4 linked regions of the Homo sapiens genome follow. The protein of the gene in region 4 interacts with the protein of the main gene of each other region in a biochemical or structural test. Each region holds a gene or a part of one and is shown on either strand. Other genes may lie near its edges.

What was found.
Region 1: the proteins of LNX1 (region 4) and RASL11B form a complex in vitro, tested with the Homo sapiens proteins (2 studies listed by BioGRID and IntAct, with this or other methods).
Region 2: the proteins of LNX1 (region 4) and NKD2 form a complex in vitro, tested with the Homo sapiens proteins (one study listed by BioGRID).
Region 3: the proteins of LNX1 (region 4) and CD8A form a complex in vitro, tested with the Homo sapiens proteins (one study listed by BioGRID).

The regions. Positions count from the first base shown.
Region 1 is NC_000004.12:52,857,439-52,865,395, forward strand, and holds the start of RASL11B (ras-like protein family member 11B), read left to right. Parts: upstream 1-4,878; 5' UTR 4,879-5,069; coding exon 5,070-5,211; intron 5,212-5,829; coding exon 5,830-5,886; intron 5,887-7,039; coding exon 7,040-7,116; intron 7,117-7,896; coding exon 7,897-7,957.
Region 2 is NC_000005.10:1,025,487-1,032,808, reverse strand, and holds part of NKD2 (protein naked cuticle homolog 2), read right to left. Parts: intron 658-7,322; coding exon 597-657; intron 1-596. UniProt on the Homo sapiens protein: Cell autonomous antagonist of the canonical Wnt signaling pathway. May activate a second Wnt signaling pathway that controls planar cell polarity.
Region 3 is NC_000002.12:86,787,914-86,796,123, forward strand, and holds the start of CD8A (T-cell surface glycoprotein CD8 alpha chain isoform 1 precursor), read right to left. Parts: upstream 3,001-8,210; 5' UTR 2,913-3,000; coding exon 2,864-2,912; intron 2,769-2,863; coding exon 2,415-2,768; intron 1,838-2,414; coding exon 1,727-1,837; intron 1,521-1,726; coding exon 1,410-1,520; intron 648-1,409; coding exon 617-647; intron 1-616. UniProt on the Homo sapiens protein: Integral membrane glycoprotein that plays an essential role in the immune response and serves multiple functions in responses against both external and internal offenses. In T-cells, functions primarily as a coreceptor for MHC class I molecule:peptide complex.
Region 4 is NC_000004.12:53,504,372-53,511,693, reverse strand, and holds part of LNX1 (E3 ubiquitin-protein ligase LNX), read left to right. Parts: intron 1-3,466; coding exon 3,467-3,708; intron 3,709-4,224; coding exon 4,225-4,377; intron 4,378-7,322.

The sequences.
Region 1 (7,957 bases), 650 kb from region 4:
TCTAAAGGAAAATTGGGAGTGCTCTTATTAAAAGAATGGAAAATGATTCTGAGCAAGGGAGGTCAACAGACGTTCTTTGTAGCCAGACTACAGGAAAACAGTCCAAAAGAGTGGAGATAGGTGTTGATATGGCTTGGATATCTCACTCAAATCTCATGTTGAATCGTATTCCCCAGTATTGAAGGTGGGAGTATTGTGGGAGGTGTTTGGATCAATAGGGCAGATCCATTATGAATGGTTTGGGCCATTGCCTTGGTGATAAGTGATCTCTTGCTTTGGCTGGCACCTCCCCCCCTGCTTTCTCTCTCTCTGTGGCTCCTGCTTTTGCCATGTGATGTGCCTGCTCCCCACTCACCTTCTGCCATGATTGTAAGCTTCCTGAGATCTCCCTGGAAGCCAAGCAGATGCCAGCACTGTTTCCTGTAAAGCCTGTGGAACCATGAGCCAAGTAAACCTTTTTCTTTTCTTTTCTTTTCTTTTTTCACCTTTTTCTTTATAAATTACCCAGTCTCAGGTATTTCTTTAGAGTAATGTAAGAACAGCCTAACATAGGTGTCAATACATACTACATAAAAGCAACGACAACAGTGGTCTTGAATATGGTCTCAAAGCAATCAATTCAAAAAGAACCTCATTATACCCTTTTATAACTGAAAGTTAAATGTCTACTGGGACATGATCTGTCCTTTTCTGGGCCTTTGTGTTGTTTGGGCTGCTAGAGAAGAGTGGAAGAAATGGTGAATTCACACTGAGTTCCTGTCTATCTGTTTCCAGTGTGTCTTCATGTACTGCCAGGACTAGAAAGGTAAACATGACATTTCCTAGACTCCCTTGCAGCTAGAGTAATAGATAAAATGAATTTCATTAATTAGATGTGCTCAGAGATTTGAAAGGCAGAAGCAAGGAGGAAAGATTCTTTCTGCTGCTTGATTGCTTTCTGCTGCCATGCACAATTGAGATATTGGGCTTCTGTGCAGCAACTTTCCAATGTCTGGTCTCTAGCTTTGTGAGTTTTGAGAGAGAATAACAGAGGCAGCCACTGTGTTCCCCTGATTATGGAAGAGGCAGCAGCTTCCTGCGTGGGCCAGTTCTGCAGTGCTGCTCTGGGAGCCATTTCTGCAGGTCCAGCCTAGAGCCTGCTACTCCAGCCCTTCCAAAGACATTGAAAGCAGGTAATTTCCTGTATTAAATCGTCTTCTGCTTAAAACCACTAAAGAGTGTCTGTTTACTGGATCTAAACAAGCAGAGTTGACAAAAGTCTCAAGAAAAAATAAAGTCTGGTTCTTGCTCAAGGCCTGGATGTTCAGAGAGGGCTGATTTGGGAGCAACTCCTGGTGATGTGGGCAGAGGAGCAGCTCATTTGGCTTCCATGCGGGCATGTTCCCATGGAAGAAGGGAGCACCAAGGCAACTTCTGGAGCTTTTCTTATCAATATGAGGGCTCCTCCACAGAAATCACCAGGGCTTTTCTCTCTGTTCACCCATCAGGAACTATCCTCCGTTCCTTTAATTCATTTTCTCAATGTGAGGCCTTTGCTATATTCACTTATGCTTTCATTTATAATCCACAACTATTTACTGAGCACCTATTGGCAAGTGCTATTCTCTTGCGAACTAACCCATCTTGCCCCCTCCTAACTCCCTGCTCCATACTCCCATGTACATGCACACACATACATGCACACTGTACACAACACACAAACTTCTCAACTCCTTCACCACCCCCTCCTTGACTGCCACAACCCAGGTTTTTAGTCCTAGTTTGTGCTTCTGTAATTCCTGAATTTTCCCTATCAAAGTGTTTTCTCACACTGTATTGAAATTGCTCATTCACTTCAGTCTCTCATGCTAAATGTAGCTGCAGGGATGGCAAAGGTTGCATTTCTTATTTGCCACTGTAGACTCAATACCTAGCATAATGTCTGGTATACACATAGCCCAGACATCCAATAAATATTTATTGAATTCATATTCTGGCATTCTAAGGGCTTCCAGGGACTGAATTGTCTGGGCTAAACCTCTTAAGATCAAAGGAAGTGCTAGAAACTCCAGATGCTGAGGTAAAATTGAACCTTGGCAAAATACTTCTTTCTTTTCTTCCCAAACCCCTCCTCATGTTTCAATTCCCCATCCTCATCTCTTTTAGCTTGACAAAAAAAAAAAAAAAAAAAAAAAAAAAGAAAAGGCTCTGTCCCTTGCAGGATATGTAACTTTGGAAGAGTTTTTTAACCCGAGACTTTGCTTTCTCACTTGTAAAATGGAAGCGTAGTGAATTACAGATGGCCACACATTCTTTGACACCATTCCCACTTAAAGATAGGATCGATGTTCCTGCCCCTTGATCTTTAATCTGGGTGGGCTCTGTGACACTTGACCAATAGAACAGAGCAGAAGTGATGCGGTGCCAATTTCCAAGTGTAGGTCTTAAGAGACTAGCAGCTTCTACTTGGTTTCTTAGAATGCTCACTCAAAGGGAAGCCCGTCACCATGTTGTGAGAGAGCCTGAGCTAGTCCCAGCTGTTCTGCCCATTCCAGCTGACACACAGACATATGAACGAAGATACCATCTTGGATGTCCAGCCTAGTTGAGCCTTCAGATGATAGCAGCCCCAGCTGCCATCTGACTGCAACAACATGAGAGACCCTAGGTAAGCACTCCCCAGCTAAGCCTAGTCAACACACAGAACTGCGAGCCACTAAAGTTTGGGGTGGTTTACTAAGCAGCAATAGATAACGGCAACTAGAAGTAATGGTAATACCTACCTCATAGGACTGTTATGAAGGTAAAATGAGATTTTTAAATGCAAAACCCCTGTGTACAACCTAGAATGAAACAAGCGCTCATTATGTATCGTCACTTCTCCTGCCTTGCCTCCTTCCTCTTTTTAACTCTATGAATGTCCCAGAAGGAGAGGTAGGTGGAGTGGAGATGGGCTATATGCTAGGTATTTGGAATTTGAATAGCTCTCTTTTCTTTTTTACATCTTTCTCTTGCTTCTCTCTTTTCTGTGTTCTTTAAAGCATAGCCAGATCATTTAGATCTAAAATAAGAACACCAAATCAAGCCTTTGCGTTGCAGACAGAAAAATCACGGGTTTTGTATGGGCTTATGGTAATGAAAATCAAGCCCAAGAAACTAAATGATTCAAAGCAAAATTCCCCTTGACAGCTTTTGTCATGTCTCTGTGTGTGTGTGTGTGTGTGTGTGTGTGTGTGTATGTTAAACTAGTACTTTAGCCTACATCATTATTTTACCATGTAAGCATGATAGAATAGCAGGCTTTTTGGAGGGGAAAGATTTTAAAAGTACATGGTTACCTGTAATTACAGTCTTGCAAAGTTTGATTTTATAGAAGTGACATTCAAGTCTGATTTAAACCATGCAGAAAGACATGGTGCATATTGGAAATGCTTTTTCTTTCTGACTCAAATGGCTGTTTCGTTCTAGTGATCTCCCTAGAAGTCAGCCTTTTATTATGTTTATTGTAAGGTTGTGTGTCTTTCTAATTACGTGGCCCATCCTAGAAAACTTGCTACCTTGAGATTACCTTTCTATTTCTCCTTGCATTCCTGCAAACACCTAAACCTCTGTAGACAAGAGGTTCATCTCAGAGTCTGAACTGGCTGAGGATCATAAAATTCTGTCAAATACCTGGTCAATTAAGTTCTGGCTGGAAGAGGGGGTCAAATTAGATGACTGACATGTGCGGATAAGGGCACTGGTTTATTTCACATTTTAGCCTTTAATGTGGGTGGGTACACAAAGCCACAGAGTTTGTTGCCATACCCCAACATAAAAGCCTCTGGGACAAGGTTGAAAGGGTAGCGGGGAGAGGGCCTTGGATAGCGGATGGGGTGGTTAACCCGCGACTCTGGTGACATTTTGCCATCAGCCGCTGGTGACATCTTGCCATCAGCTGCAGCTACAGAATGTTGCTCGCAGGAGGAATTTGGCCTGCCGTTGAAGATGTGTTTCTCAGATGAGACTGTAAGGGGCCGGAGCTTGGGATTTTAGGAGTGCAGGGCCCACCTCTTCCTTGGTATCAAGCCACTTAACTAAACTCTTGCGGTGTCTTATGACCAGGGACGAAGTGCGGGGCCCCTTCAGACGTCGCAGCTGGAGTAACTGTTTTCTTTCCATTTCACAGCTCTTGAAGGAGGTGTGACTGAGTGAGGCGCTGGAAAGCTTGTTCTATAATTACTTCTTGATCCGCTTCTAGGCGTGCTGTGCATGCGTCCGACCATGTGTGTTTGCGTTAGCTTGCGCCGTCGACAAGAGCCAGAGAACGTGGGTCTAGGATAAAACGTGGATGATATTTTTGCTTCAAATGTCACATTTTACGGGGGTCTAAAGGTCTTAGGCTGGAGTCTTTGCGGATGATTGCCAACTGTAGCTGAATCTATGAGCTGGGATGTACCCAAGCCAGTGCAATCGCTCCAAATCAGGGCGGGCGGCACTAAGCCGGGGAGCAAACACCGCTCCCGGCCCGCCCAGAGCAGACGCCCTAGGTTGGGGCTGCAGCGAGTGCGCGCGTGGGCTGTGGAGCCGGCGGAGGCAGCGGTCCGGAATGGCTCTGTGGAGGCTGCGCTCTCTTCCTGGCCCCGCAGCCACAGCAGCTGCCCCATGCTCGCGCGGCAGGACCTACCAGGCGCCCACCCTGGGCTGCGCCGCCTCGGACCACCCGCTGCTCCCCTCCGCCCGCTGCCTCTTCTCCCCGCGCCTCACGGGGCTCCGCACTGACTCCAGGCGCCTCCGGGGGCGTCGCGCGCGCGGAGCGGCGCCGGGGGCGGGGCCTCGTGTAGGGCGCCCCGGGATTGGCTGTGGGGAGAGGGGGCGGGGCCGGCCGCGGAGAAAACAGCCGGCGCGCCGCGCGAGTGCAGTCTGGGTCTGGAGCCTGAGCCCTGCGGAACCTCGGCGCTCGGCCCCACCCCGCCCGTACCTGCACTTATTTATTGTTGTTATTTCTTACCGCGGAGCCCCGCAGTCGGGTCCTCCCGCCCGCTCCCGCGCAGCGCTAGCATTCTCCAGTCCCTCAGTCCCTTCCCGCGCGGTGCGCCGCAGCCGAGGCGATGCGCCTCATTCAGAACATGTGCACCATCGCCGAGTACCCCGCGCCGGGCAACGCCGCGGCCTCCGACTGCTGTGTGGGCGCCGCCGGCCGCCGCCTGGTCAAGATCGCCGTGGTGGGCGCCAGCGGCGTGGGCAAGACCGGTGAGTCGTCGCGCTTAGCCCTGGGTCTGGTCTTGGACGACCCCTGACGGGAGTTGAGGCTGAACAAGGCGTGGGGAGCGGTGGGAGCTGCAGCCCGACCGCTCTCCGTCCCCGCGCAGGGAGCCGCTGCCCCTTGGGAGTGGGCTTAGCCGTTGTCTACGCCACCCGCCTGCTTCCACAGACGGGGGAAACAAGGATCAAGAATGGCCAGGCAGCTTTCTGGGGACCACCGGCACCGCCGCCATCAGAACTTTGGGGTGTTTGAGCCTCTGGCAATGCCTGGCACAGAAAGGGGAGTTAGTGAAGCTAGCCCCCCTGGGAGGTCTTGAAGGTTAGGAAGACATGGGTCTACTGGAAGGCTTAGGTGTGGCTCAGCCGGGCTCAGAGGAGGGGGTGGGCCCAGTGAGCCTTCCAGCTGCACAGAGCCATAATTCACGATGCCTTCTAGCCCCCTCCTTTTTGTCTGGAAAGAAGGGTCAAGGAGCTACAGGGTAGGAATTTCACTTGGTGGCCATCTATGGCTTTCTTTGGGAGAACTGTTTTCCAGGCAGGGGGTGGGGTGGAGAACAATCTAACTTCCAAGGTTAACACTTTGACGTTCTTTTTTCTGACGTGCAGCACTGGTGGTCCGGTTCCTCACCAAACGATTCATCGGTGACTATGAAAGAAATGCAGGTGAGACAATGCATTTGAGAAAAATTCTGTCCCATTGCAGGAGGACTGCGGTTCCCATTTTCCAGCGCTTCCCAGGGAGGTTCTTTCAGTGACAGTCCGAGCCTGAGGATCCCGCCACTTAAAACTTTCCCCAGTCCCCAGCCCTCCATGGCGCCCCCCTCCCATAACTACCATCTGGCCTCATTCCATTCCAAGCCCATTCATCATTTTATCAAGTGCCTGAAAGTATTCCCCTTGGTATGTTTTAACTATAGTGACCCCAGTTGGAAGCACCCTTTGTAGTCAAGAACCTCTCCCTTCAAAACACTCCTGCAAAAGTCGTAAAAAAAAAAAAAAGGAGTCCCTAGCTCCTTCCCCCACCCCTCTCCTTCTCTGCTGGCTGCCTTTCAGAGGTGACCTTTTAAAGCAAAGGCCAAAGGAGAGCAGTTGTAAACCTAAAGTTCCTCCTTCTTAACAAAGACAAACAACTGGATGGTAGAATTTTAGGAGGAGAATTCCCGAATAAATGAGAGGACACATTTTTCAATCCTTATGATTAAGAATAGCCACTGGGGAGGCTTAAGAGCTTTCTGCCTATGCTCTGTTAGCAAATTGCTTAACTCTGTAGACCATATGAGTACCTATAGGGGATTATTTGAAATGAGCTGTATAAGCTATCCCAAGATAAGACATGGCAGCCTTCTGATTTGATGTAGAGTTGATTATAATTATATCACATTTTTATTCCAACTGATAACATTGGCTGTGTGTTTACTAACAGTATTTGTCTAGCAAGCCATTATATCTAACGGCCAAAATACAAAGTTACAGTCAAAGAATGAATCAAGTACTCAAGAAAACAGAAACCTCACATAGGCTGAGCAAGATAATTTGCATCAAGGGAGTACTCTAAAAATGGAAACTTTGTTTAAAACTAGATAAATAAGTTTTCAAAAACTTGCAAACTTTGCCCTGGTTTTAATAAATCTAACATAGGGTTAAAATTGCTGTTGTTTTTTAAAAAAAATCTGAAGTAAGCCCACCAAATAGAAATAAACTATCGCTGTTTTGTGTGCATTTATGCATTGTGCATTTTTTTTCTAGCTTAAAACTCACAATGTTTTAAAAGTTGTACAAGAAGGAAGAACATAATCTCTTTTATTTGCCTTCATAGGTAATCTCTATACTAGACAAGTTCAGATAGAAGGTGAAACCCTGGCTCTTCAGGTTCAAGACACTCCAGGTATTCAGGTGAGAAGCTCTGAGACTCTGGGTGAAAGGGGAACCTACTTGGCTGTGGAATCACTCACTTCTTCTCAAAGTTCCTCATGCTGCAGGATCAGAGAAATTTGGGGAGTCACATCTAGACTTTTACATGTCTGACAATTCAATTGTATCTGGCTGTTGGTCGATCTTAGCATGGTTTAGTTTGGGAGATTTGGCTAGGGGGCAGAAATCTTCCTTTAGAAGGATTCAACACAGCCGGAAAGCCCAAACCGAATGCAGTTGGAATTGGTGTTTTCCTTGCTGTGGTTTAAAAGTCCAGTTTTAATATGTGTGTCTTTGGCATGAAAAACCAAGCTTCTGGGTATAGTCTGCAAATACTTGGAATCGCTTTTGTACTGGAAAGTTGCTCTATAGACAAAAGCGCCATGCTAGGGTTTTTCCCCCCGCCTCCTGAACTGGGCAGTTATCCAGGTTTAAATGCTTCCAGCTCCTATCTTTACTTCCCCAGACTTACTGTCTAGCCAGTTAATTTCCCATTTTGTGCAACTACAAAGTCGCTCTGCATGGAGTTCTCTGCAGGTCAATTTTCCACTTGAGTGTGGTAAGCTGCACTGTTATTTATTCCCACTCTGTGCAGCTGGATCAACATATTGTCAAGAAAGCTGAAGTGTGTGGGATATAAGTTGTTTATGGCCCTCAACCTGGCACTACTATGAAGGGCTCTTTTGAATTTGAAATCTACCCAAGCCCAGGCTCTTTGTACAACTGGCCAGCATTCACCTTGCCATCACTCCTCTCTTTCAGGTCCATGAGAACAGCCTGAGCTGCAGTGAACAGCTGAATAGGTGCATTCGCTGGGCAGATG
Region 2 (7,322 bases), on a different chromosome or scaffold from region 4:
ACCTGCAGACAGGTGCACGTCGAGCCTGAGCTGGGACGATGCTCTGGGCCTGCCTTCCCACTGAGGGGGTGTGGGTGCCTCTCTTGGCTTCAGCAGCCATCCGAAGGTGGCCCTGCTTGCTGGCCTCCCAGCACCCTCCCACAGACCCACAGGTAAGCCAAGTGCTGACCTGCCACGCGCCACAGGTAGGACTGGTGCCACTGAGGCATACACGCGTGGCAGTGACTTAGGCTGGGCCAGCATCTCACACATCCTCCAGCCCAGGGCTAACTTGAAAATTCACAGGTCCCCTTTATACAGAGCCACCCCCATCCACAAACACAGGCTCACAGAGACTCCAAACACATAAAGGTAACGCTTAGGGCTCTGCCCATGGGACAGGCCTTTTTGGTCTCTGCTGCCAGATCGCAGCTGCCAGTCCAGCGAGGACCCTGTGAGTTGTGCTGCCAAGGCTTTTTAAGAACAAAGTGCGTCTAAGCCTGGGAAGTGCCCTCGCTCCGCACACGGGGTTGTTTTAAGGGTGGTTTTCGGCGTTGCCTTGGTACGGGATGAAGTCTGTGAGTTTGGGGAGGGAGGGCTGCGGGAGCTGCACTCACCCTGTAGGGGACACTGGTCCTCCCGGAAAGGCCCCTCCTTGGGGTCCCCATTGGGCAGCTCCTGCAGGAAGAACGGGGCAGTCAGTGGCCACATAGCTCAGTGGGCAGGCGGGGGAGATGGGCAGGAGCTCTGGGCGGCTGGACTGGAGCCTGACACTCGCCTCAGGCCTCCTGGGGCGTCTCAATCTCTGGGTCCAGAAACACCAACCCTTCGTGCCCCACTCAGCCTCAGATTTTAGGAAGCAAAACACACAGACATTCCTGTGTTGTCAGGTTCCCCAAAGCATTTCCAGGTAGAAGATGCAGCTGCCTGGAATGACCCCTTCAGTCAGTGCTGCCCTGGGGATCCCCTTGGCCAGGGCCCCCATGCTGGATTACCCTAAATGCAAGAGGAGACACACTGCCCCTTTGCTCTGGGGCCTGCTCCCAGCACTGCCCACTGGAGCCTGACACGAGGACTCCAGCCGCTGCCCGCATGGCTGCCCAGGACCCCAACATGCCTCTTATAGGGCTGCCGGCCGAGACCAGTTACGGAAAATGGGGAAAAACTTCAAACACATCCCAGCGGTGTTTCAGCTGAGCCGAAGCTCACATGGTTCTCATGAATAATCTGCAGCCTTCAGGACACAGAGAAGGAGACAGACCTGTGGTCAGGGCAGGGGCCTTGCGCAGTGGTGGAGGTGCGGAGCCCCTCGGCCCAGCACACACCGCCCTGGAGCATTTCCTGAGAGCAGGCAGCTCTCGGGCAGGCGGGCGGGAGGGATGGGCAGCTGTGTTTCTGCTTCTGATTCCAGGTCCCTGGAAAGCCGTGGAAAGCCCACAAGGAGATACAGCACAGAGCTCAGTCCCGTCCACCTGGACGGCCAGAGCCTGACCCTGGAGATGACTTTGGTGCCGAGTTGGTGTCTCCGTGGGTGGACACAGGACCCCAGGGCTGCCCAGCTGGGACTGCCCTCACAGTCCCCACGGCTTCATCCTTTCCTCCTGACCAGGGGTCATGTGCCCCTCATCTCTTCTGACCTCCTATGGGGCTGTCTGCCCTGCCGGGGTCCCTGGGGTTCCTGGAGTCTGGCCCAGGCAGGAGGCTGAGCAGGGTCACCCTCGAGGGCACCTGGACCCCCCCAAGCGCCTCCTGCCACCGTGGTCACTGGCCAGGGTCCAAACAGGGTATGGTGGAAGGTTCCAGGCTGGCCAGCTGCCACCCCAGAACTTGGGTGGGGAGAGAGGGACCAGACCCCCACCCACACATGGGCACTAAGGTGGCGCTGCCGAGGCTGAATATTGTTGAGTGAGACCCAGGCCCCCAGCCCCCCTTGTGGCTGAGCCAAGGGCCCCCCAGAGCTGAGGTCTCCTGCTGGCCGCCCAGGGCGGTGCCAAGGCAGGGTGGGCAGCTCCCAGCGGGAGGCAGGAGAGCTTGCCCTCATTTTAATAAGAAACAAAACAGCTGATTATTAAAAAGTAGGCCTCCCTCCTGGGGGCTGCAGTCCCGACATTCCGGGACTGGCTGCTGCAGCCTGAGGGGCCCCATGAGCCCAGCCCGGCGAGGCCTTTGTACATCCACACAGCAGGGAGGCACCGCTGTGAGGGAAAAGCTCTGTCCAGGTGGACGCTGGCATAAAACCAAATCATCTCTAAAACCCAGGCTGTAGTTATTTATTTATTTATTTCAAAATCAGAATAATGGGTGAGGCTGCAGTCGTGGGCTTCCATGGAGTGCAGAGCAGTGCCCAGAGCCCCAGAGTTGCAGCCCCCATGGGCACAGAATCCTCGTGGGATGGACCAGATACTAGGAGCTCTACAGCCCCTCAGGTGGACTCGTGCAGGTGCTTGGAGGTGGCTGCCGACAGAAATGGTGTCATAAGGGCAGCCAAGGCCACCAATGCCCAGGCTGAGGGATGCAGGCACTGCCACTGCGGAGGGGGGCCAAGGCCACCAATGCCCAGGCTGAGGGACGCAGGCACTGTCACTGTGGAGGGGGGCAGCCAAGACCACCAATGCCCAGGCTGAGGGACGCAGGCACTGCCACTGTGGAGGGCTGGTAGGGAGGGGAAGGTGACCCTAAATGCTGAGGTGGGTGCCCCGAGGCATCCCTGTCTACCCTTGGGAGCTCCAGCCCAGACCTTCTCCTCTGGGATGTGGGGAGGGTGCAGGGGACCTGTGTGGTGAAGCCCCCAGGGTTCTCAGTACCCCCCCCCCCGCACCACAATCCCCCCTCAGGCACCCAGTTCACCTCCCATCAGACCAGCAGGCAGAGCTCAGGCCTCCTGCATGGTGCTGGGTGCCCTGAGCCTCCTTACAGATAGCAGTGAGGTGCCCTGGGGCCTGAGGGCCAGCGCGTACAGCACTCCTTGCTAAAGAGCCTTAACTGAGGTCACTCATGGAGGCCACATCGCTGCCCAGATGAGGGGCAGCAGCAGTGGCTTCCTGGAAAGTGCCAGAACTCAGAGGAGCCGGAGGTGCGGTGGCTCCTGAGGACAGGCAGCGGGCGACGGGTTGGACGGGGTGGAGTATTTTTTAAGGATTTTTAAGTGTTTCCCACGATTTGCTGAACATGTCAAGTGAGAAACAGCACATCACGCACTCCACGCATAAAGCTAATACAGTGAAAATGTAAACGCAGCCCGTGCCGTGTTTCTAAAAATTCTGAGCGCACTTGTGGGGGATTTCACTGGTTACAGACAGGAGTGTAAATGCACAGGGTGACAGAAGGAGGGGCGCAGCTGTTCAAGACAGAATCTGCACAGACCCGTGGTTTGATGTCTGGAAACGCTCCGCGCGCTACACCAACCAGCCAAGCTACAATAACCAATAAAAACTGTAATAACCAACCAAAACTACACCATGTAGCCAACGCTGCACCAACCAGCCAACGCTGTATCAACCAGCCAATACTACACCAACCAGCCCATGACTGAGTTCCTAACACAGAGGAAAACCACATTGAAAAAATATCCCCTTATTCCCTAGAATTCTCAGCGCTCGAACGCACAGTGTTTTTTCTAAGACCCAGGTCAACAGCTACCTCTGAGATGCAGGGAGGATCAAACGGGAAAAAATGAGCATCTACAGTCAAAGCCACTCCAATCTCTGTGGCTGGTGATTTCATCAGATCCGTCCTGGTTGCATAAAACTGCCCTTTAATCTACGCTGCCTCGGTTAACTAGAAGGCCAAGAGCTTTAATTGCAACTTATAAAACCTGCCCCCGGGCCGCTGGCCAGATGTGCAGCCCCTCCCCACTGGGAAGACCTTCTGAGAGGCCAAGTCCGCACACAGGATCCCAGCAGGCCTGGCCCAATGTGCCCCGGCACCCACCAAAGCCTCAGCTTCCCAGGGCGGGCGCCCCTCCCTGAGATGCAGCCCCCACCTGGCCTCGCCCTCCTGAGGACCCACCCTACCCTCACTCCCTCCCGAGGGCCCAACCCTCCCCCTCAATCCCTCTGGCCCTGTCCCTAGCGAGACCCTCCTGTGATCCCCCAACCTGTTCCGCCCCCCTTCCTGTCCCAGCTGCACTTCCGGTTTGGGGTGCCTAGGCGCCTCCTCTAGCCTGTCCCACTGCTCTGCATCCCTGAGAACCCTCCAGGTCAGCAGGGACCCCACGGCTGGCCTGCAGACCTCCCCATGCCCGTTGTCCCCTCCCGCCCATGGCATCCTCCTGTGATGCCGGGGGCTCTCCTGGCCCCTGGGAGGACAGGAACCCGACCGTGGGCCTGCCCCGTGGGGCCTCATCCCATAAGGAAAGCAGCCGCATCTGCCTGAGCAGCTCAACCCCACTCCCTCACTCAGCATCACCTCAGATTTGGGAGGAGGGTCTGACCCCAACCCACGGAGGCCTCCGGGACCAGAACCCATAGCCTCGCAGCTGCATGAGCAGCAGGCGTCTGTCACACGGCGTCAACAACAGGTAGCCTTTGCTTCAGGTCCCACGGCCCTACGGGATGCTCAGGAAGGCCACCCTGGTCTGTGAGCCAACCACCCCGAGGCCACCGTCCACGTCCCCGCCACGACAGTGAGGACATCTGATCCCCGCCACAGGCACCGGGCTGAGCGCTTCGTCCTCCCAGCACCCAGCCCCCGTCCTGGTCCCAGCCCAGACGGTAAGATGCAAACCACAGCCTCCACAGGCGGCCAGGCACGGAGAGACGCTCACAAAACCTCAACCCCCAGCTTCCTTGGAAAAGTCAAAAGGAGTGTGTTCCCCACGTGCCAGCGCTCGGCAGCGCCCAGCAGCTGGAGCACCACTGCCCCCCAGAGCCACCCCGTCTGTCGGAACCCCTGCAGAGGCGCCAGGCAGCTGCAACACAGGTATCATCCTGGTGGCCTTCAACCTGGAAGTGCCGGTGCAGGCACCTCTGGGAGCCACCTGGAGCGGGCGATGTCCTCTTCCCAGTGGACAGGTGGGCACGGCCAGGCACCTTTCCCAGGTCTCGCAAATGCAAGGAGGCGCTGTCCCCTCCTGGGCCTCGTGAGGGCAGCTGTTGGCCACAGCTCTGGTGGAACGCCCGGTGGGAAACACACGGGTGTCCACAGTGAAGTCACGGCCCTCTGGGACATGACCTAAACCCTGGTCTAGGGTTCTAGAAATACCAACCCCGATCAACAGGCAAAGGCCACAGCGTGTCCAGGAGGCCAGGCTGGGAGCATCCCCTGGAGCCCAACGTCTCCCCACGAGTTGGGAGGGTGGAGGTGATGGGAGCCGAGGCAGAGGAGAGGGAGCGGGGAGGGAGGAGAGAGACAGAGAGGAAGGCTTCAGAGAACTGGGTGGGCGTGTCGGGCAGCATTTTCCAGACCTCGGGGCTCCCGGGTCCCTCTGGAGTGGGTGTGGAACCCCAAGTCTGGGACGTTATCCAGAAGGCACAGCTCCTACACCGCCTGACACAGGACGGGCCTCTCCTACAGCTTTCATCGCCACCAGCAGCACCTGGCACCCCTAGATCCATAGGCACCTCCCAGGCTGCACTCTGGCTCCCCAGCGCCTTGGCCACCTTGCACTGTGGTGGGGACGGCCCTGTTGGGTGGAGCCCCTGGCTCGAAGTTTCTGCCACTGGGGAAATGGCCTTGGTGCACCTCCCTGTCCTTGGCAGGTCAAGCAGTGGCTCTCGAGCTGTGCCCAGGGGGCCCCCAGGAGCTGGAAAGAAGGGCCGGGGTGACAGCCTGGCCCATGTCCTGTGGTCATTGTCACCACCCCTGTGGCCACCCTGTTCTGCAGGGCTAATCCTACAAACTGGGCTGCCAGGCCCAAGGCTGCCAGAATTACGGGGCTGTCGTGGCATCGAGGGCCAGTTTGTGGGGCTCAGGCAGGATGCCAAGTGGTGAGGAGCAAGGTAGGCGCCTGCCAAGCTTAGGCTGCAGCCACCGCCACCTCAGGGCACTCGGGAGGCACCTGGGATGCGGCTGGGCAGGACCAAGGCCACGTCCAGGCCAGCAGTGACCTCCTGCCTCGGGGGCTGGGAGGATGCTGGACGTGGTAGAATGAAGTGAGTGCCTGGCAGGTGGCTCAGGGAGGGGAGCTTTGGGATATGGCACACGGGCTGGAGCTGGGCCTCTCAGGAAAAGGCTGAGGGTGATGTCTGGATCCCAAGGAACCCAAAGGGCTGGGACACCCACAGTGGGTGGGAAGAGCAGGGACAATGGGCTGGGACACCCACAGAGGGTGGGAAGAGCAGGGACAATGGGCTGGGACACCCACAGCGGGTGGGAAGAGCAGGGACAATGGGCTGAGACGCCCACAGCAGATGGGAAGAGCAGGGACAATGGGCTGAGACGCCCACAGAGGGTGGGAAGAGCAGGGAAAAAGGGCTGGGACGCCCACAGCGGGTGGGAAGAGCAGGGACAATGGGCCGAGACGCCCACAGAGGGTGGGAAGAGCAGGGACAATGGACCGAGACGCCCACAGCGGGTGGGAAGAGCAGGGACAAAGGGCTGGGACGCCCACAGCGGGTGGGAAGAGCAGGGACAATGGGCTGAGACGCCCACTAGCAGGTGGGAAGAGCAGGGACAATGGGCTGAGACGCCCACAGAGGGTGGGAAGAGCAGGGACAAAGGGCTGGGACGCCCACAGCGGGTGGGAAGAGCAGGGACAATGGGCTGGGGCACCCACAGAGGGTGGGAAGAGCAGGGACAATGGGCTGAGACGCCCACAGCGGGTGGGAAGAGCAGGGACAATGGGCTGGGACGCCCACAGAGGGTGGGAAGAGCAGGGACAATGGGCTGAGACGCCCACTAGCGGGTGGGAAGAGCAGGGACAATGGGCTGAGACGCCCACAGCGGGTGGGAAGAGCAGGGACAATGGGCTGGGACGCCCACAGAGGGTGGGAAGAGCAGGGACAACGGGCTGGGACGCCCACAGCGGGTGGGAAGAGCAGGGACAACGGGCTGAGATGCCCACTAGCGGGTGGGAAGAGCAGGGACAATGGGCTGGGGCACCCACAGAGGGTGGGAAGAGCAGGGACAATGGGCTGAGACGCCCACAGCGGGTGGGAAGAGCAGGGACAATGGGCTGGGACGCCCACAGAGGGTGGGAAGAGCAGGGACAATGGGCTGAGACACCCACAGAGGGTGGGAAGAGCAGGGACAACGGGCTGGGACGCCCACAGAGGGTGGGAAGAGCAGGGACAACGGGCTGAGACGCCCACAGAGGGTGGGAAGAGCAGGGACAACGGGCTGGGACGCCCACAGAGAGTGGGAAGAGCAGGGACAACGGGCTGAGACGCCCACAGCGGGTGGGA
Region 3 (8,210 bases), on a different chromosome or scaffold from region 4:
TGTGTGTGTGTGTGATCATGGGCTGAAACTGGATGAGGCAGTCACTTGAGCTGCCAGATAGCCAATTGTCCCTGCATCTCGTTCCCCTTTTTTCTACTCCAGTCCTTGGCAGCAAACCAAGGTCCTACATGACACAGAGAAGTTAGCAACCAAAGCCATTATTATTTTGGTTCAGCTGATAAAAGATTGGCTCTCCCTCAAAAAACTAGACCAGCCAAGTAGGAAAAAAAATTGTTTTCTTAAGAAAACAACAAAACCCAGATGGAATAATCAGAATAAAGAGGAGGTCAGGTCCTACGAGGAGCTAGGATAAATTGGGGGAATCCCTCAGGTTTTTTTTTTTTTTTTTTGGAAGTGCCAGGTCAAATAAGATGGAGATTTACTGGAGTCACACTGCTGTTGGCACCCGCCTAACCCGGGCCTCCTTTTTCTCAAAGACACAGGCCAGATGCCAGCCTTGGCCTCTCTTTGCTCAGGAACTGGCTGACTCCCTGCCCCAGGATTTCACGGCCATGACCTCTCTCTGGGAAAAGTTCCCACTATTTGCTGCTGGGGAAACCAGGACCCCACCCCAGGGCTGGCCAAGGTGAGCAGGCTGAGTTCAAAAGAGACTCACCGGGGACATTTGCAAACACGTCTTCGGTTCCCTGGATAAGGAAAAAGAAGGGAAAAAGTGAGTGCCCCTATCCATCAATAGTCCCCAAAGACAGTGTATTTTTTGTTGTTGCTGTTGTTGTTGCTGCTGTTTTTTGGTTTTACAAAAAATCATTTCAGAACGATCATGGGCTGAAATTGGATGAGGCAAATAGGGAATTGCCTCTACGAATTCTCCTTCCTTTCCCCTATTTCTTTGAGGATTATAACTCTTGAGAGCCGGGTAAGGGCTTCTTATCCATCCTTCGTCTCAAGCATCAATTAAAAAAAATTGCAACTACAGACGCGGGCGAAAGCGGGGAGCCTGCAGACCTGATCCGGCACCTCTCTTGCATGGGACCCAAAGCAGGGTGGGCGGTTCGCCGAAGAGGGCCAAGGACGAACCTCAAACTGATGGTGGTTTTGACTAACCCTCCTGGGCACTTGACTCGGCCACAGCGGCCCCCTCCCGGCGGGCGTTTGTCATGTGTCCAGACATGTGCGCGCGCGCTGCGGGCTTCGTCGACGGAACACACCCGCTGCAGCGGCTCTGGGAACGCGGCTTTGTCTCCCAAAACCTCTCCGAGAGCGCAAGGAGCGGGAAGGGCTTTCTCGCATTCTATCTCCCAGAAAGAAGTGCCTGTACCTGCGGGGCAGCTCGGGAGTCCCAGAAAACTCAACCCCAAGCTCCCCCCTCGCAAGGTCCGCCTGGAGCTAGCAGAGCCAAGGGCAGGAGCGGGGCCGACTCCTTCCCGCCGCGATTCCTCGGGACTTACTGTGGTTGCAGTAAAGGGTGATAACCAGTGACAGGAGAAGGACCCCACAAGTCCCGGCCAAGGGCGCCCAGATGTAGATATCACAGGCGAAGTCCAGCCCCCTCGTGTGCACTGACGACACCAAAGACGCCGACATTTAGGAGAGGGCCCGGGACCTCCCAACCGCCCCACCGTCCCGGGAACGTCTCTCCGCCTCAGATCTCGGTTTCCCACCACTTGGACAGCCCTTGACTCTACCTACAGTATCAGGGCTGTCCCTGGCATGGGCTCTCCCCGCGGTGCGTGCCGCCCCCGCCCCGGGCCCCCGCACGCCTCACCTGCGCCCCCCGCCGCTGGCCGGCACGCCTCTGGGCGCAGGGACAGGGGCTGCGACGCGATGGTGGGCGCCGGTGTTGGTGGTCGCGGCGCTGGCGTCGTGGTGGGCTTCGCTGCAAGAGCAACAGAGCGTGGTTGGGGGCCAGGCTGGGGTTATGGAGGCGCCCCAGCCCCGGCCTCGCGCACCTTTCCCCACGGGGACGCCTCCCCCCGGTTTTCCTGGGAGAAGGGATAGCAGAGGAGACAGGATGGGGACCCCGGGATGCGCGCGGACCCCTGTGCTCGGGCCTCGGCTCAGCCCAGCGCACCCGGCGCCCAGAGCCGGAGCGCAGGAGCCAGCTCCCCTGCACCTGGCCTCTCTCCCGGGCTGAACCAGCAACCCTGGAGCGCGGGTTGATTGCTGTCCGCATTTTACCCACGAGCAAACGGAGGCGCAGATAATTTAAGTCATTTGCCCAGAATCACACAAGAATCCGAACTCGAGTCCAGATCGGCCGGACGTAAAAAGCCATCCCCAGTCCCTACTCAGCCTCGCGTTAGCCTCAGTTTGCTGTGTCTGTGAAATGGGAACAGTATCTAAGTCGCTTCCAGGTGCGCTAAGAGGCTTGAAAGCAGGGCCCAGGTGTGGAAAACAGGTTGAGGTGAACCCCAAGCCCCACGCGGAGAGGTGCCGCAACCCGGCGCGCGGACCTGGCAGGAAGACCGGCACGAAGTGGCTGAAGTACATGATGGAGTTGCTCAGGGCCGAGCAGAAATAGTAGCCCTCGTTCTCTCGGCGGAAGTCGCTCAGGGTGAGGACGAAGGTGTCCCCCAACCTCTTGCCCGAGAACCGCTGGGTGTCCAGCCCCTCGGCCGCCTTGGGCTTGTTTTGGGAGAGGTATAGGAGGAAGGTGGGACTGGCGGCGGCGCCGCGCGGCTGGAAGAGCCACGAGCAGCCCGACGTCGGGTTGGACAGCAGCACCTGGCACTTCAGCTCCACTGTCTCGCCCAGGTTCCAGGTCCGATCCAGCGGCGACACCCGGAACTGGCTCGGCCTGGCGGCGTCTGCAGGCGGCAAGCAGCGAGGCTGAGCCCGCAGTCCCGCGCCCCCCGCCCCCCGCCCGCCCCATCCCCTGCCTTCCCGGGCGTCTCAAACTCACGGAGCAGCAAGGCCAGCGGCAGGAGCAAGGCGGTCACTGGTAAGGCCATGACGCGCTCCCCAGGACGCTGCTTGGCTCGAAGCTCGGGCGCGAGGGGAGGCGCGCGGGAGCCGGTGGGGCGCCGAGGGGGGAAAGTTGCGCCCTTCGGCCGGCCCGGAGCCTGATTTCGCATTTGGAGGATGTGATGTCACCCGAAGCCCCCGCCGAGGAGAGTCACCCTCCTTTTCGCGGTTGTCGCCTTCCAGCCCGGCGAGGAGGCTGGGGCCCGTGAATAGGGCCGTCGAGGCAGCCTGGCCAGGCAACTGGGGGCAGCTGAAAACTGCGGGTTTGGGGATGAGGAAAAGGGCTTGGAAATAGTCCTTGGAAATGGTTGTCTTGTGAGAGTGACAGAGTGGGTGAAGGGAGACCAAAGATTTCAAGAAGTGAGGGCGAGAGTAGGCAGCAAAGGAGGGGAGTGTCCCTTCCTTTGCCTTCACTAAAGGCGTCTCTTGTACTGTCACCTTGGGACTTTTTATTGGCAAAATGGGCACTGAGGGCTGAAAAGGAAGAGGAACTAGCGACCTGCCCGCTTCTGAGGAACTCGCTAGAGCAGCCCCAGTTTTCACCGAGGAAGGACCCTCTCCCTTCCCCCAGGAGATTTCCATGAGAGCGGCAGCAGCCGAAGCTTTGGGTGTCGGTGTCAGTGCGCTGCTGACCTCATTCTTCCGGCCTTTCATCCAGCGGCTAAACTCACCACACAGCCTCATCTCTTCTTGGAGCCATTGCAACAGCCTTCAATTCACACCAGTCTCTCTCCTGATCAGTCCTCCAGCCACGTTGTTATAAAAATTATTATTCTCACAAAGGGGATCTGACAGCGTCACTGCTGCAGCCTCCCATGGCCTGCATTGCTGGATGGAAATTCAACCCCCAGCTTGGTTGACCAGCCCTTGGGTGCTGGCTCCTCCCAGCCTCCGCACAGCCCCCTGCCCTGCCTTTCCCATACACCTGCAGCTGCAGCTTCACAGGCTTGAAGTCATTCAACCCCTGCGCTCTGTGCTTTCACGCCCTTGCACTTGCGGTCCCTCGGCCTGGAATGCTGGTCTGTTTAAGCCCTGGAGGCAGCTCCTGTGCTGTCTCATTTGGACCTCATTTCTTTCACCCCCAGCTCTGGGTGCTCTGCAGGGAGGTGTGGGTGATGTGGGTGAATGCTTGGGTAGAGGCGGTTTTCTCTTTTCTGTCCCTAACACATGTGTGTCCCCTTCCTTTTTGTTTCTTTAAAAAATAAAATAAAATAAAAAAGACTGGAGTCTCGCTGTTTTGCTCAGGCTGGCCTTGGGACTCCTGAGCTCCAGTGATCCTCCCACCCCAGCCCCCTGAGTAGCTGGGACTACAGGCTCATCTTTCCTTTTTGACTGTTGCTGTCCTGAAACCTTCCAGCTCCAGTGGCATGCCCTCTTCCCATTTCTTCAGGGTTTCTGAGTCTTTCCACTTTGAATCCCATAGTGGCTGCACCTCACATTGCTACTGCTTGATCCTAGAGACAAGACACCTGGCATTCTGTGTTCCATGTGTCTGCCCCACCCATTAGTTCTGCTGGGCGAGGACCATGCCGAGACTTCATGATGTGTCCTCCATCCCCAGAAACACAGCATGGGCTGAGCTGTGCTTGTTGAACTGCATTCTCCTTGTCCTTGTGAAGTACAAACTTAAGTGTTGGATGGGTTCTTTGTCGTTGTTGCTATTTTTTTTTTTGAGATGGGGTCTGGCTGTGTTGCCCAGGCTGGAGTGCAGTGTGGCACCACCTCGGCTCACTGCAGCCTCTACCTCCCAGGCTCAAGTGATCCTTCCACCTCAGCCTCCCAAGTAGCTGGGACCACAGGAGCACACCACCATGCCCAGCTAATTTTTTGTATTTTTGGTAGAGATGGGGTTTCACCATGTTGCCCAGGCTGGTCTCCAATGCCCGAGGTCAGGCGCTTTGCCCCGCCTTGGCCTCCAAAGTGTTGAGATTACAGGTGTGAGCCACCATATCAGGGCCTGGATGGGCTTTTTTTTTTTTTTTTAATTATTTTGATTTCAGTACCTCCTTCCAGCTCCCTCAAAGCATCCAAGATGCTTATTCTAGCATGGAACATGTAACATTTTATATTCAGAAATTTTTAAAAATGTCTTTTAAGTGACAACAGTGCAATATATTCTTGTACGAAAACAAACACAAAGTTCCCTGTCTCAACTCTCCTCACTGTCACCTGCTCCCCACAGAAAACCACTGTTACAGTTGAATGTGTCCCTTAGATATTATCTGTACATAAACAGATGTTTATACATCATCTTAGACACATGGGATTGTATGAGATAAATATTTTTTTGCAACCTATCTTGTTTCACAGTAGAAGGAGAGCGTTCAGCAGATGAAGATCCACCCCATTCTTATAAATGGGTGCATTATATATGGGTGTTCCATAATTTAATTCTGCTGTTAGTGGACATTTAGGCGATTTCTCATTATTGCAACACTAGCAAGGCTGTGGTAGATATAATGTATCTGTATCACTGAGGGCTTGCACCAGTACCTGCAGCTTTTTCAAATGGGAGATGAGGGAGTTGGGGAAGAAAACACCTTTACAATGATGGTTATAACTGGCCTATCGATGTATGCATGTGTGTGTGTGTGTGCATGGTATGAGGGTCCCTCGCTGTGTAGACACAGTGCTGTCCCTCAACTCACATGAATGAGGGAGACAAGGAAGCAATCAAGTCCAGACAGGCCACCAACACATCAATTCTTGCTGTAGATGGTAGTTTGCCATTTTGCTCAGCACCACCAGCACTGTATCAGGAGTGTCAAATGGCCCTGCTGGCCAAAGGCTACAATCAACAGGGTGGTAAGGAAGATGGCTAGACACGAAACTGCACTTGCCCAGTGGTGGAAGCACTGAGGGGGCCAGAGTCAACCTCCACCTATTTGGATCTTGAGAATCAGGCCCCTGAGTGTGATGATGGCCAGATTTGGGGGTGTACTGCTTTAAAATAGACTAGTTCCATCTTAGTCTCACGGAAATCAGCTTGGGGGCCTTCTAGCCCTGCAGCTCAGAAAAGTGTCAGCCAGTGGGGTGGCAGCCCCTTTGTACAGAGCACCATGGGGGTTGGGGTGGGGAGGATAAGGCAACATGTCAAACCCATCAAGGAGGCTTTGTGACCCCAGTGATATTTTTTGCAGAACGTGGTGGATTTTCGATGTGACCACAATGACATCCGCCTTGCAGTGGCAGAACAGATGCAATTGCACAAGTTCTGGAGAAACTTTCTGTAGACCAGGTGTGCAGAGGGCTGGGTTGGGCCTGTCCATCACTGCCAGGTAAGTTCCCAAACCCCACACTGTAGCACTGACTTGGGATGGCATGAAGAAATGTGAATGACTGCACTCCTTTAAGCAAGCCCCTTATTTAAAAAAATATCCAGAAGTAGATAGAGTAAGATAGTAACCAGTTTCTATGCTGATTTAAACTGGTCCATGGAAATGGAAAACTTTAATGTAGATTAAAGACATATTCAAAATGCAAAACCGGGCAGAGCAGTGGTAGGAAATCCATCAGGGTTCTGTGCCACTGCTCCTAAGACATGAACTGCAGGGACAACTTGGAATCATGGCTGGGAAATTGCCTGCTGTGTCCCCATCGCCAATTCAGGTCTATGGAGATGTTACTGTTCTTGGAAGGAGTTAGCTTGTCCAGGGCTAGAAACTCTAGAGTTATCAGGGCTTGTTTTATCTTAATTGGAAATACCAATCAATTTGGCCTCACTTCTGTCACCTTTCTTTTCCTCCACCCCGAGTTCCCCAAGTTCATCTAGCTGCTGTCCTTCTTTCCTGGACTTTTGCAATGGCCTCTTAACTGGCCAACCCCATTTCTGCTCTGGTCCCTTCTAGAGAAAATCTCATCATGCCAACCCCCTGCTTCAACCTGAAAGGACTTCCTGGTGTCCCTAGTAGAATGTCGGGGATCCCTAATGTTGCCTGTGAGGCCCTGCACACTTGGTTTCATAGTCTCTGTCCTCTTGTCTGTCACCTTCTTCACTCCTCCTAGGTTCCGCATCTCTCATTTCTCAAGCGGACCCTAGTCCTTTCCACTTCAGAGCCATTAAACATGCTATTCCCTCAGCCAAGAATGTTCTCACCTCTGCTCTCTGCTTACCAAACTCCTCTCCCTTAAGACCCAGCTCAAGCATCTCCTTCCTGTGGGGTTTAGCTCCTTCCCCCTCCCACTCCCAGACAGTACAGACCACATCCTTCTCTTCTCTGTGTCACCCGGACCTTGGGTATCTGCAGACTGGAGCACAATGGTTTGTTTGCCTGTCCAGCTTGACAACCAAACCCTTGGTCCCTTGAGGAAGGAGCCTTGTCCCTCTCATGTTTACACCAGGGTGCCAAACAGAGGGCTTGGCACACACTTGAGTGGCACACACTCAAGAAATTCTTGCTCAGTAAAAGCTAAAGGAAGGTAGAAGTAGGGTACAGCAGACCAGAGGAGGCTTAGATAGTTCATTCCAAGTAAGAGTGGTCAGGAAAGGCTTCACATATAGTTGGGTTTGAAGATAAAGGAAGAATTAGGAGAGAGGTTGTTTAGAATGAGGCATTTGATATGTCTGATCAAGATCAGCTGATACCATGCTTTAACATATAGCAATGGTATAGTTAAAAACAAAAGAAGAGGAGGAAGGGGAGAAGGCAGATGTACTCAAAAGCAAGATAAACGTCTTCAAGGATGTAGTTGCAGGACAATGGCTGGAATCAGGGGCTGGCTTGCTGGGATCTGTTCTTAGCAAACCATTCTTGGGCCTGGGTCTTGAGGGTCTGTTCTTAGTGTAGAGGCACCAAGAGTTTGACTCCTTCAGCTAACAGAGTTTCACAGTGCTTTGCCTATAGAGGAAGGCTGGAGCCAGGCTCTCTGCTTGAAACAGGGATTTGGATCTGATTTTCTCTTGATTGAAAGAGAGCCCACAGCCACCCATGTAAGGCCTAGTTCTGACTGTGGGCCCTGGAAAGTCAGAGGCTACTTTAAAAAACTCAGGAAAAGAGAGAGTAAAGAGAGGAAGAGATTTTCAAAAATTTCTATTCAAGATAACCCTGCACACACACTCGAAATTCAAAGTATACATAAAAAAGACTCAACAAGTGGAATGTGAATTCACTTCCAAAAAGAGGCAAATTATTGAACAATTTGAAAAATGTTTAAAACAAAGAGAACAACAAATGTAGAAAATGCAGAAATTAAAGAAGAACAGTTGAAGATGATAAATACTGAGCATACTGGAAATGAACACTCTACATATTAAACAAGGATATACTCTAGGTTGGACATAGTTG
Region 4 (7,322 bases):
CTTATCCCCCCTCCAACCCCAAAAGAGACAAAAATTCTGGCATTGAGTATTAACATTCTTATATTAAGACAGATTTACCTCTACTCACTTTGATAAAAGAGCTCAGGATCTCCCAAGAAAACTGATTTTTCAGAGTTGCTCATTTGAATGGACAGCACCTCCAAAGCTTGTGCTTTGGTTGAAAAGGGGTTTTCTGTGTTCCTTGTATTCATCCTTCAAGTTCATGGCCATCACCCATCACCATCTGAGAGTACTTAGTGCTCAGAGTAACTGAAAGGAAGCATAAATCCTCCTTGCTTTGAACACAACCCAGGGTTTACCGTATGTTCTTGTCCTGGCCAATGCTAATCAGCTCTTCCCCGCTTCTTCCATCTTTAATGCTTGTAAATCAAGCTGCCCCAGTATTAGTCACCACAAAAGAGATAATTAGTAAGTACAAGCTGCTACCTTCATAGATCACTCTGTCTCTGGCTCAAGCTAAGCCAAGAGACTGGAGAAAGCTAACATTACACAGTATGAGTTGCATTAGCAGAACCTTTATTACACAAAGCACGTGAGTCTGAATACTTAAATCAAGAATCTGCACCCTCCCCAGCTGTTGTAAGAACAGCTGTGATATGAGACCAAAGGAAAGGCTACTTACCTACCTTATGAGGTTTTCCTTTCCTGGACTCAAAAACTTATCTTTAGAACCCCAAGAATTTGAAAGTGCAATGGTTTCTTAATGGCATAATCTTGGGATTCAGATATTTTTAAAATACTGTAACCCCCATTGATGGGGCAGCAGAGAAAGGTGCCAGTTTCTTTTACTAGGACATGCTGTGTCCTCCCAACAAAGCCATGGCTTGTACCTTTGCCAGCCATTTGTCCAGCTGGAAAATAACGTTACTATTCTGGCAGGGCACATGGTCAAGAGCATTGCTGCCTCCTCAGAAAAGACCATTTCCAGACCAGCTAGGAACTTCCTTTCCATGCACTGCTAATCAGATACTACCAGCCTGCCTGGAAGTGTTTCATTCAAGTATTTGTTACGTTGGAGCCGCTCAAATGCAAGTTGGCTTTTATTTTTTCCATCACACAGTGTTTCACCAATTTTTGAGTTTCCCAGATCAACCTCTTCACTATGTTTAAACAGAATGATTCCAAGCCAACGCAGCTAATCGGTACAGTAAAACCTCACGAATTCAAGCCAGGAATTTGAACTCTTCCAGCTGAGGACAAGCACTAGCAGTGTAAGTTGGAGGCCTGTTTTCTCATCTAGAAGATGAGGACATAAGGTTGTATAACCAAACTCCTTTTCTACTAATATTAAAACCACATTTCATCTAATCTAAGATGCCACTGACTATGAGAGGTATGTTCATATAACAGCAAAGAAGATGACATTTTAAAATGTGCCATCAGTTAAATAATCCCCAAACACCAAAGATATCCCCATGATGCATAGATTGGTGAACTAGACTCTTGTGGCTTTGAAATCCATTCAGATGAATTTGGCAGCTTCTCCTGCCCTTGGTTGTGTTGCTTGGCATGAAATAGGCAATCCTTTTTGAATGTTCTCAATAACAAAATGTAACACCACTTTTAATTCCCTTGGGTGCATCTTTCTAAGCAGATAAAACATTTGCTTGTCCCTTTGCAAGAAAACACAGAATTGTGATTCTGCTTCTAACAATGAATATGTACTTCATCAATATCCAATTGTTCTGTTTTTGAGGCTTTCTATAACTTTTCATTTTAGTACTGAATCATTACATTCAAATGGCAATTAAACTCAATGGTGTAATACCAAGTATGTAGGCAACTCAATGGAAGTGATAAGGGGTACTCGTGCGACTGGGTTTGCAGTGCTGGGATGGTGACGTCTGCATCATGACTGCCACCTGGCAACAGAAACTTCACAACCCCATCAATCACACATGCATCCTGATTTTAGACATGTTAAAGCATGAAAAGAGCATCTTAGGATGTACAAAATATGGAAATAGCGACAATCTCATGAGAACTGCTTGTAGTCATGTAGATACCATGACGACTTTAATGAATTTGCATTCTAGTACTTTTGGCAAAAAGTACTAAACCCCTGATAAGACTTAATGTCGATCAAACCTCACAGCAATCCAGAAAGTATATGCAAATTTGGAAGTTTAGCCAGGTAAATAAAATTTCCCTAGATCACCCAGCTATGTAAATTTCAGAGCAAGGATTTAGATCTAGACAATAGGACCTTCCATCTTGCCATTTCTATGATTCTATGGGCAGTAAAAATCATGTGTGCATATCACGGTAGACTGACCTTTGATTTCATCTACTTTCAAAAACATGAAGCATCCCTGAAGTAGGATCTCAAAGGGCTATTTAAAATAGCTCAATCATATAGGGTTTTGAGTAATGAATTGATAAGAATTTATAATTAACACATCCATTATATGCAAATGGACACTTCCTAAAGGGGCTCGTGATATGATTTCTGCCTTCACAACTGTGGAAACTGGAGTGGTTACCTGTAGCTACCCTCCCCACAGTAGAGTGAGATAGTTAAATCACCATTTCCTGACCAAAACCTAGCCTGTGCGCTGCAATGACTTGCCGAGTGGCAGTGTTCATGTTCATGGCAAAATATGGACCTAGATCAGCTCCAACCTTGGTCTTCTGAGCCTCGAGAATGTTCTTTTTCAACTTCTTTCTATTGCACCAATAACTTGCTTTTCTCACAAAGTTTGGTTTTTGTGGAGTTTTCTGGATTTTTTTTTATAGCATGGATAGTGAATGGGTAGAGACAAATATGTTTTTGCTAAAAACCACAAAAGCTGTTTTACTCTCTTAATGGTAGACAACATGGCAATGAATGACACTTCTCAGATCATGGGAGCCCCCAACACCAGGGAGGCCCTCCCAGACCAGCCCAGAGAAAGAGAATGGAAGCCACCAAGCTGCCACTAGAGGATAGCAATGCTGAACTCACTCCTGTGGCTTTGTGGTGAGGGTGATTCTGTTTGCATGAACAGTTAAATATGGAATCTGGGAGGAGCTTTATATTTACGTTCAGTGCTCTGGGAACAAAATCCAAAAGAAGAGTGAGGGTGTGACTAAGGGCTTTCATGGTCAAAATAAACACCAGCAAGCAGGAATTACCAAATAGTTGAACATTGCCAGCCTCAAACCCTACTCATGTAGACACCATGGTGACCTGAATAAATTTGCATTCCAGCAGCCAATGTAGAGATTGCTTTAAGAGAATGCAGTGGGCGTCTTTAAAAAATCTCAAATTATGAATTCACTTGGTTGGCAAATGTATATTGAGTACCGATGTGTGAAAAGGGAAGAGAGGATATAGCGGCAGGCAAATCAAATTCCAAGTTCAACAAGCCTATTATACATTCTTCAATTGTATTTGAAGAGGGCTGACTGAGGAATGGCAGCAGAGCCAAAGCTCTTCTTCACCTCCCCGCTGGTTCTGTTACAGCTGTAAAGGTGCCTCCCACTACGGCCTGACCAAAGATAGGAAGAGGCGCTCACAAGATGGCTGTCCAGACGGCTGTGCGAGCCTCACAGCCACGGCTCCCTCCCCAGAGGTTTCTGCAGCTGCCACCATCTCCTTAATGACAGACGAGCCTGGCCTAGACAACCCTGCCTACGTGTCCTCGGCAGAGGACGGGCAGCCAGCAATCAGCCCAGTGGACTCTGGCCGGAGCAACCGAACTAGGGGTGAGTCAAATGGGTGGTTGTCCGGGAATGGGCTCCTTGGCTTGCGATTGCCCTCTGTGGAATACTTACTGTGGAAAGTTCTGTAAATGTTTTTTAAGGGGAAATCGTTCTGGTAGTTTTGGCAGGAACCCAATGTCCAATTCGCCAAAGTGAAATGAAACCGCAAGTACCTCCAATCATTAAAACTGTGTGTAATCTGACTTGGTGAAAGGGGCTGAAACTAGACCTAATGATTCATCACTCCTGCAGTGTCAGTAATTTTTCAGCCATGCTGCTCAAGAAAAGTGGTATTGTATTCAGTTCAGCCCAGAAACAAAAAAGAAAAGCAGGATTTTAAGCACGTCGTACATATTTCACTGTAGAAAACTTAAAAAATACAGGTAAGCAAATTCTACAATCCTACCACCCAGAGGTAGTCACTGTTAATGTCTTATTGTGTATATCTTATCAGATATGTACATAAATGATTATTTCTATTAAATCATAACTACTGTTCCTCCTGTCGCTATTCCTCAGCACGGCCCTTTGAGAGATCCACTATTAGAAGCAGATCATTTAAAAAAATAAATCGAGCTTTGAGTGTTCTTCGAAGGACAAAGAGCGGGAGTGCAGTTGCCAACCATGCCGACCAGGGCAGGGAAAATTCTGAAAACACCACTGCCCCTGAAGGTAAATGAACTCCCCATAAGGCTGGATGGACATGGGCTGGGCTTCCAGGGGGACTTCAGGGATGACGCAATCTGATCACCTTCCACCTTCTGTGACCCCTCTCTTCCCAAGGGTATACAATATTTTTTACTTTGATTAGCCTACTTCTCACGTATGTAGCTAAAGGCAGAAAGTATTATCATCTTTTTACATAGATTGAAGAAAAAAGTGTTGAAACCCTCACCTTCAGGCGCTAGTACCATTATGCATATGAGGAAGAATAATTATAATTAATGAGTGAAAAACATTTAAAACAATGACTGGCACATATAATAAATGCAATATATATATTCGCTCTCCTTACTCTTTCAACTACATTTGAGGTGTGGTGCTGAGTGTTTTACATGCATTTCCTCATTTAAGCCTCACAACAACCCTATGAGGTAGCTACTATTATTCCTCTTTTTTTTTTTTTTTTTTTAGACAGAGTTTTGCTTGTCGCCCAGGCTGGAGTGCAACGGCGGCATGATCTCGGCTCACTGCAACCTCTGCCTCCTGGGTTCAAGCAATTCTCCTGTCTCAGCCTCCCAAGTAGGTGGGATTACAGGCACCCACAACCACAACCAGCTATTTTTTGTATTTTTTAGTAGAGACGGGGTTTCTCCATGTTGGTCATGCTAGTCTCGAACTCCTGAACTCAGGTGATCCACCCACCTCGGCCTCTCAAAGTGCTGGGATTACAGGCATGAGCCACCGCACCTGGCGCCACTCCTATTCCTGTTTTACAGATGAGGAAACTGTGGCACAGAGAGGTTACTTAGGTTGCTCAAATTACCTTGCTAAACTTTGAATCCAGGTAACATGGCTGTAGAATTCATGCAAAGGAAGCTATTGAGTCTTAGATCCCATATGTTTTCCCCAATATAAGTGGAGCTGAGGAAATACTGTCCTACTGTCTTTGCATTTTATGTTAGAACTTTAGAGTAGTAGTAACAGCTTTTTTAAAAAATTGAGCTCTTTCTGCATGCACATAGTGTTTTAAGTCATTTAGATGTGACAATAATGTTAAGGGGATAGGACTATCATTCCCATTTTACAGATGAGAAAACGGAGACCCAGAGGGATTAGGTAACTAGCCCAGTCACCCAGCTAAAAAATGGCAGAACCAAGATTTTAAATCAGGTCCTCTGGTTCCAGAGCCTACTCTCTTAGCTCCTGGGTTATACTGCCCTCTACTCTTGGGAGTTGGGAGGCAGAACCCAAACCACTGTATGTATTATGCCCTCAAAATTCATGAGCAGCCTTATCAGACCTTTTCTTGTATACTTATTCATGATTGCCTCTCACCCTGCACGTACATGCTGCATGCTCTAACAGCTCTCAGCTTATTACAGTCCTATAAATGCTGTATATCTTTCTTTCACCTCCCTTCCATTATCCAGCCTGCGCTCCCACTCTCCTTTCAGCTGGCATTCACGTTCCTTCTTCCAGATTTAGTGTAAGACTTTGCCTCCTCCTGGAAACCTCACTCCCTCAGCCCCCTTTTTAGGTGTTTTTGAAGCACCTGTATCAGCGATGATCATGTTTCATGTAACTGTACCTCAAAGTGCAGGGATTATTTTTCTGAATCTTTGTTCTTAAGGCCTAGCACAGTGTCTGGCACATAAGTGTCCACTAAATGTCTGTGCAATGGCTAAATGAAAAGATTAGAACTTCCTTTCCACCAGTCTCTTCCTCTTATTAAAGACTCTTCAATTCCACTCCATGTAAAGTTCTCTACTACTTGGGCCAGACGTGGTGGCTTACTCCTGTAATCCCAGCACTTTGGGAGGCTGAGGCAGCCATATCACCTGAGGGTGGGAGTTTGAGACCAGCCTGGCCAACACAGTGAAACCCCATCTCTACTAAAAATACAAAAATTAGCCAGGGCATGGTGGCGGGCACCTGTAATCCCAGCTACTTGGGAGGCTGAGGCGGGAGAATTGCTTGAACCTGGGAGGCAGAGGCTGCAGTGAGCTGAGATTGTGTCACTGCACTCCAGCCTGGGTGACTCCATCTCAAAAAAAAAAAAAGTTATCTTGAAAAAGATTTATTTGCATATTTATTACAAAAACATTTATAAAACAGATTATTATATGTAAGGCACCGGCCTAGGTGCTGTCATTTTATATAAAGAATATAAAATGTAGTTCTTGGCATCAAGGGGTTTATTCAAGACTAAAATATAATAAAATAAAAGCATACCTCATTTTTATTTTTACAAATTGAAAGCTTGTGGTCACCCTGTAGCCAACAAGTCTGTTTGCTCCATTTTTCCAAAAGCGTGTGCTCACTTCATGTCTCTGTGTCACATTTTGGTAATTCTTGCAGCATCTCAAACTTTTTCATTATTATATCTGTTATGGTGACATGTGATCAGTTATCTTTGGCGTTACTATTGTAATTGTTTTAGCGTGCCACGAGCCATGCCCTTATAGGTCAGTAAATTTAATAATTGTGTGTTCTGACTACTTCACTGGCCATTTCCCCATGTCTCTCTTCTTGGGCCTCCGTATTCCCTGATACATAACAGTATTGAAATTAAGCCAATTAGTAACCCTACAATAGCCTTTGAGTATTCAAGTGAAAGGAAGAGCCACATGTCTCTCACTTTAAATCAAAAACTAGAAATGAACCTTGGTAAGGAAGGCATATTGAAAGCTAAGGTAGGCTGAAAGCTAGGCCTCTCGTGCCAAACAGCCAAGTTATTAATGCAAAGGAAAAGTTCTTGAAGGGAATTAAAAGTGCTACTTCCAGTGAACACATGATTTACAAAGCGAAACAGCCTTATTGCTGATATGGAGAAAGTTTGAGTAACCTGGATAGAAAAACAAAACAGCCACAACATTCCCTTAAACCAAAGCCTAATCCAGAGGAAGGTCCTAACTTTCTTTGATTCTGTGAAGGCTGAGAGAGGTGAAGAAGCT